2 linked regions of the Homo sapiens genome follow. The protein of the gene in region 1 purifies or fractionates together with the protein of each later gene. This does not show direct contact. Each region holds a gene or a part of one and is shown in the gene's direction. Other genes may lie near its edges. The genes, in order: ANKRD26 and OTUD6B.

Region 1 (3,830 bases):
ACATACCCTTTATTATATGGGTAATTTATAAAGGAAAGAGGTTTAATTAACTCACAGTTCAGCCTGGTTGGGGAGGCCTCAGGAAACTTAACAATAAGGGCAGAAGGAGAAGCAAACATGTCCTTGACATGGTGTCAGCAAGGAGAAGTGCCAAGCAAAAGAGGGAAAAGCCCCTTAAGAAACCATCAGATATTGTGAGAACTCACTATCACAAGAGCAGCAGCACGGGGGAACCATCCTCGTGATTCAGTTACCTCCCACTGAGTCCCCCTCACCACACGTAGGGATCATGGGAACTACAATTTGGGATTTGGTTGGGGACACAGCCAAGATGAGATTTGGGTGGGGACACAGCCAAACCATATCAACATGCTATTTAATGTTTATAATTTTATGAACCATTGTATGTTTTGAGACAGTGCACTACAGTTTATAAAAAGTCCTGTCACTCTCATAGGACGGCTCTACATTTGGCCTGTGCCAATGGTCATCCAGAAGTAGTAACTCTCCTGGTGGACAGAAAATGCCAGCTCAATGTCTGTGACAACGAAAACAGGACAGCTCTGATGAAGGTATATAGTAGCCAGCTCTTTCAGCATCAGATGGATTTGACTTAAATACATAGAATGAAAATGAATTTATCTCATTAAAATATAACTAATTGGTGAAACCTGTGGAGTGTTTATTTTGCATTCCTAGAATTTATGATCTGTTTCTTGGTCTAATACTCCCAGGCTGTACAATGCCAGGAAGAGAAATGTGCAACTATTCTGCTAGAACATGGTGCTGATCCAAATCTTGCGGATGTCCATGGCAACACTGCTCTTCACTATGCTGTCTATAATGAGGACATATCAGTAGCAACAAAGCTGCTTTTGTATGATGCAAATATTGAAGCAAAAAACAAGGTATAGATCAACCAACTTTATTTTTACAGTATTTGAAATGCGTTTGTTTCAACAGTGACATATGTAAGGGTTAGTTTTCTGTATTTGGAAGCGCAAGCATTCCCTGACTGAAAGTATTTTAAAATAACTTAATTGTCTAAGATTTTACTTTAAATGTTGATACTTTTAAAGAAGCATTAGGCAGTACACCTTTCTTTTATGCATTTATTGTAAATACTTGTGAAAACACAATTTGTTAAAGGCAAATCTTTTTTTTTTTTGAGACAGAGTCTTGCTCTGTCTCCCAGTCTAAAGTGCAGAGGCGCGATCTCGGCTCACTGCAACCTCTGCCTCTGCCTCCCGGGTTCAAGCAATTCTCCTGCCTCAGCCTCCTGAGTAGCTGGGATTACAGGTACCCACCACCATGCCCAGCTAATTTTTGTATTTTTAGTAGAGATGGGGTTTTGCCATGTTGGCCAGGCGGGCCTCGAACTCCTGACCTCAGGTGATCCACCCGCCTCAGCCTCTCAAAGTGCTGATATTACAGGTGGGAGCCACTGTGCTCAGCCTAGAAGCTCTTGGTTTTGATGGGAAACAATACAATGAATACAATATGCCATGCCAAATGATGTGATAGAAGCAAATATTCTTAGAACCGGTAAAAATTTGAAGTGAGTTTTGGAGATGAGTGGAGTTCATGTGGTGAGGCAGAGGAGGGGTGTTTCCAAGGGAAGCAAGTGTTTTTTATTTGTTTTCTATTTTATATGTTTCAGTTCAAAGGATCTGACATAGAGTTTTCAGTTCAGCCGAGAATTATGTAATTTTATGCATTTTAACTTGTTTTTGCTGTCTTACAGGATGACCTCACACCACTTTTACTTGCAGTAAGTGGAAAAAAGCAGCAAATGGTGGAATTTTTAATAAAGAAAAAAGCAAATGTAAATGCAGTAGATAAGTTGGAAAGGTACAGTAGCTGGTTTTGTTTTGGATTTTTAAACTTGTATGTTTAAAAGTTTTTTTAGATCTGTGTTTTGCATGTTACAGGTTTTTTAAACCTGCTTGTTCTTGAGGGGCAACAGTGATTCGTTGGTGTTTCTCACTCAAGTCAGAAATATTAATTTAATAAGAAGGTTAACATAATTATGGGGATATAGTGACAAATAGCAACACAAATCAGTTAGGAAGAAAAGCAGTTGCTTGGATTGGGCAATATAAAAGAAGACTATACAGTAGGATTCATCTTCTCTTATAATATTGACTGATGTTTGTTATTTGTAAACCCATGTTTTTGGCCATGTGATCTGTTAGCTAAAGAGGTTTCTTATCAGTTTTATTAGTTTTATAAAATGCGGACTTTAACTTTTAGTTTACTTTTTTTTTTTTTTACATGGAGTCTCCCCCGTCACTCAGGCTAGAGTGCAGTGGCGCAATCTCAGCTCACTGCAACCTCCACCTCCTGGGTTCAAGCGATTCTCCTGCCTCAGCCCCCTGAGTAGCTGGGATTACTGGTGCACACCACCACACCTGACTAATTTTTGTATTTTTAGTAGAGATGGGGTTTCATCATGTTGGTCAGGCTGGTCTTGAACTCCTGACCTCGTGATCCACCCGCCTTGGCCTTCCAAAGTACTGGGATTACAGGCATTAAGCCACTGCGCCCGGCCACTTTTTAACTCAATATTGAACTTCTTCACCCTTTTATGGTATTGTTCTAACCTCTGCTTATGTACTTTTCCTTCAGAAATGCTGTGTTAAACATCAATAGCAGTTTTTGTCTTTTGAGTGCCTCTTTGCTTTAAGTTGCTTTCTTTGAAGAGTACGGATGTTAGGTTATCCCTAGGTGATTGTTGATCGCTATTGCCAGATACTATAGTTTCATTATTTTTTTCCTTTTCTATTTCTAGTATATTTTGATGTTTTTATTTTTAATTGGTATGGGCAAAGGGAAGAAAGACAGCTTTTATTGGATAAACTTTTCCTTTATTGAAGACAAGCCATAGATGGGTGATAAAGAGAAAAGAGGCTTTAAATTCACACGAGACTGGATTTAATTCCTTGCTTTCCCACTTGTTAAGTGTGTAAGCTTGGGGACCTTACTTATCACCAAATATGTTTTCTGATATAAAAAGGGGGATACTAAATATATCTCAAGGTGGTTGTATTTAAATAAGATTATATAGCATTTGATTCAGTGCCTAGCCCACGCTTATCAGCATCATTGGCTGAAACTACTGTGACTCCTATTATTACCTTTATTATTATTATTATTATTATTTGAGACAGGGTCTGGCTCTGTCACGGGCTGGAGTGCAATGGTGTGATGTTGGCTCCCTGCAACCTCTGTCTCTTGGGCTCAAGCAATCCCCCTGCCTCAGCCTCCTGAGTAGCTGGGACTACAGGCATGTGCCACCACATCCAGCTAATTTTTGCATTTTTTGTAGAGATGGGATTTCCCCATATTACCCAGGCTGGCCTCAAACTCCTGGACTGTAGTGATCCACCCATCTTGGCCTCCCAAAGTGCTTAGATTATAGGCATGAGCTGCTGCACCTGGCTACCATTATTATTAATACTGTTTTAAGCCTGCAGATAGCTCTTATCTGACCCCTAGCTGACTGCAATTGTAATATATCAGACTAGAGAAGAAATGGAGAATTCTTCATTTAAATCTTTGCCTACTTTAGATAAGTAAACTCAGCATAGGTTTTTGCCATGAAAGGACTTCTAGTATGTAATACCCCAGTGAGACAAGAGGCCTCTTTTTTGTCCCTTCCTTTTAGCCTTGGTGGTAATTTACAAAGATGAGCACTTGAGCACCCAAGATGCTTATGTCTATTAGTAGATGTAAATAGTTAATTCTACACAGACAGGCAAGATACTAAATTGGTAAAGTATATCAAATTATCTGTGCACATAACCTTATTAAAGTTCCTGGGGTGAAAT
Region 2 (3,830 bases), on another chromosome or scaffold:
CTGTATTATATTTATTTATTCAACAGATATTTATTAAGTGCCCAGTATATACCAGGCTCTCTGTGTACAGTGGTGAACACAGCGTATCCCTGCTCTGACTGGTTGCCCGTTCACACATATTTGAATGTGATTTACATTTTTATTTTCCTTACTGATACTTTTTTTCTTCCTATAGCTAAGAGCTCTGTCTCACATTTTACAAACACCAATAGAGATAATACAGGCAGATTCTCCTCCCATTATAGTTGGTGAAGAATATTCAAAAAAACCACTAATACTTGTGTAAGTACCTAGACATTTTTACTGTTTTATTTTTCACAATTAATACAAAAAGGAATATTAAAAAATTTAGATTATATGTGTTAAAATATGTGACTTAGATAATTTTTTAAACCTCTAGCGATTTATTTTTGTGTGTGAGTTTAGAATAAAGTCATTTCTAAAGGTTATAACATTTTAGGACTAGTTTGTATACTGTCCTGGTTTGACATTAGTAATGCTAAAAGTTTCAACAAGTGTTAAAAGTTGAAATACATTCATGTTGCCTGTTTATTCCTTAGATTTATTTTTCTTCATTTTATGAAAATATCTTACATGATTTAGAAATCTCTTCTGAAATACAGCATGCAGGGTTTGCTATTGGCTTTAGTATTTTTTAGCTAAACCTATTAAGATAGTCATCAATGGCTAGATGACAATTTAAGCTGATTGAACCTTCAGCATCTCAGCCTTTTCGTTTTACCCCAGTGATTGAACCAGATCTTGCTGACTGCTGCCACTTTTCAAATGGTGTTGAACTCTTAATTAATATGTCCACATAGTCTATTGAGTGAAACCCATGTGGACTGAGTCATTCAGAATCATTGGTTTATATATATATATAATAAGCATATATATATAGAAAAATTGCTTTCATCAAAACTACTCATTTCTTTTTTTTTTTAATTTCAGATATATGAGACATGCATATGGCTTAGGAGAACATTATAATTCGGTTACACGGTTGGTAAACATAGTTACTGAAAATTGCAGCTAATTTATACAATGTTGTACAATTATGTTTTAATACAGTGTGCTGAACTGAGTATTTCTACCAAGTGTTGGGTTGTTCTAAATGCTACTGAAAAACACAACTACCTTATATCAGTTTTATGGCAAAGCTACTAACAGGTGTTTTTAGAAATATGTCAGAGATAAACTTTAACCAGTGTCTTCTTAGTGGAATTTTAAAAATTTGTTAAGTTCATTGTAGAGAACACCATTCATAGACCAAGATGGTCCCCTATTAGCTGATATTTTCATTTATGTAAGATCCTGGACATTCTGTTTTGTGTTGGAACAAATTTTCAATGTTTTTAATTCTCCCTTTTCTGCCTGTTCCTAAAAACTTTCAAAATAACCATTTCAATGTAATTTGTCTTGAAGAAGTTTACCCAATATCTTTGTCATTGCAATAATGTAGTATGGTGATGGTCAATTTAATTATTGCTTATAAAATGAACTTGATTGCAGTAACCATGGTATCGATGAGACTAATGCAGTGAAGCTTTATTACTAATATATATAGCCTTATCAAAGCAAGCTAAGAAGCTTGCTTTAATAATTAATAATTTAAAAATATTTATTTAGATGGGATTCAGTTGTTTAAAGAAGTGAGATAAATTCAAAGGTAAATAGGTATTCTCTGTCAAATTTAAATCTCTAAAGAATTAGAGATTAGTTTTTTATTTGTGTATAATTTAAAAAAGACCTAATAGGTTACTGTCTTTTTAATGCATTTGTTATTCTTTCGTATTTTTTAAGCATCGGACTGGAGTTAGTACCATCATCTCTTGAGTCTTTCATAACTACACATTTTTATATTTCCTTTTGTGTTTTCTACTTTGCTTTCCTTGAAGGAACAAGCATTTTGTGGCCTTTACCTTGTGCAATTTTAGGGAGTAGCAGTGTAAAAGGTCCAAGACCACATTTACTTGAAATTCTTCCTCTTTTCTGATTTGTCTTACCAGATATTTCCCTTCTTGCCTCATTCTCTAGGATTTGAATAAAACCTTTGCCACTTATTTTATTAGCCTTATTAATGTCACCTTTCCTTCAACTCAAATATTTGAGAAATTTTATGTTACATATATGAATGAAGTTGAAAGCTACTGTTTGGAAGCTAAGACTTGTATAGAGTAGTTTTGTATATGAATGGTTGTTCTAGCTCAGATTTCAGGTTACTCACAACAGTATTCTTTCTAAGAGGATATATACAAATGTCTCTCATAATTTATGTAAGGAAATATTATGAAAATGAGACTTTTTTAGTTTGATGTGTGTTTCCCAAACTAGAGATAAAACTAGTAAGATTTAGTATCGTTTATAACATTTGAATTTTTGCTCCATGAGTACAACTAATTTTTATAAGTAAATATTGGGTTTATATGAAAAATGGGGTGTCAGTCTTTTCACACGCCCAGCAGGTAACAATGTGGGAAGCTGGCAGGGTCATTGATAGCAAGTAAGTACTTCCTGAAGGCTTTCCAGTTCAAAAGATTACAAGCCATTCTGCCTGCCAAACAAATTATATTCTGAAGATGCCTGTTTTGTAACCCTTGATGTGAATTTTTTGGTGTCTGAAATTTACAAAAGAATGAAATTGAAATTGTAAAACACTAAATGCTTTGGGTTTATTTTGAAGTAATCTGTTACTTTAAAATGTCAACATTAGGAAGCCATAAAACAAGATATTATGAAACCCAGTATTATAAATGTTATCTACATCTAAAGTATTTTAAAATAACTTATTGGCAGCTTTATTCTTTTTTTCCTTACAAGATTTAGAATCTTTTTGGTTATATGTCTATTTTTCAATTTTGTTATATTTTTAATTTAAGTGGCCAATGTGGTTATGAACAAGATTTGTATGGTCAGCTTCTGTTCTTTCCTAAAACTTCAGATAAATATCATTTTAGCTATAACCTAAAAAAGTGTTTAAATAAAATGACAGATGTTAATTTAAAAGCAGCATATGCTAATTTACTTTTTCATATGATGATGGTCTAATGGAAGTTACATATGCTTTCTTTTGTCCTAACTCTGAAAAGTATATGTCAGAGTTCTGGAATATGTCTTTAGCCAAGAATTTTATTCACTTAAATTTGTTTACAACTTGTATAAAGCAAAAAAGAATGTGTGTAACTATAGTGAACGCATAGTTTTGCTTATATTATGTGATGTTTGCCAAAAAAAGAATAAAAAATGAATGAATTAAATCAACATTTATTTGCTTGAATTGTCATTCTTTAACAATTCAAGAATTTAGAAGTGGAGAAAACTCCTTTTGCTTTGTATCCAGCCTTTACTTTGTCTTCACACACAGATTCTTACATTTTAAGGGATTTTGAATAAATATATGAGCATAGCTTATGCCCCAGAAGTAGAGGGAAATAAAGTAATAGCCATTTAAGCTATAGCTCTTAGAAATCAGGTACAATCTTAGAACCTTTTAGAATAATGAATGTTTATTTAGGGTAAGTGAATTTGAAAAATATTTTAAGACCCATAGATGTTAAAATAAAGAATAAACATTTGTGTGCAAGAATGTGGAGCAGTAAGAAGGAAGTTTGTACAAATTAATGTTTTCACACAATTGTTAATATAGTGCCTTCTTGGTACAGGTTCTTATGAAGTAGCTGAAGGACTAGATCAGTTGATCTTCTGAGAATTTATTTGGTGATTTCATGCTTTTTTTTTTTAAACTTTTATCGAACAGATGAAATTTTTCTCTGCCTGTTCTGTTACCTCATACATTGATTGTTTCCTCCTGTCTTAAGTCTTTATCTTAG

What was found.
Region 2: the proteins of ANKRD26 (region 1) and OTUD6B fractionate together in Homo sapiens (co-fractionation; one large-scale study listed by BioGRID). This does not show direct contact.

What each region holds. Positions count from the first base shown.
Region 1 is NC_000010.11:27,090,427-27,094,256, reverse strand, and holds part of ANKRD26 (ankyrin repeat domain-containing protein 26), read left to right. Parts: intron 1-457; coding exon 458-572; intron 573-734; coding exon 735-908; intron 909-1,744; coding exon 1,745-1,851; intron 1,852-3,830. UniProt on the Homo sapiens protein: Acts as a regulator of adipogenesis. Involved in the regulation of the feeding behavior.
Region 2 is NC_000008.11:91,083,833-91,087,662, forward strand, and holds the end of OTUD6B (deubiquitinase OTUD6B), read left to right. Parts: intron 1-175; coding exon 176-282; intron 283-951; coding exon 952-1,036; 3' UTR 1,037-3,261; downstream 3,262-3,830.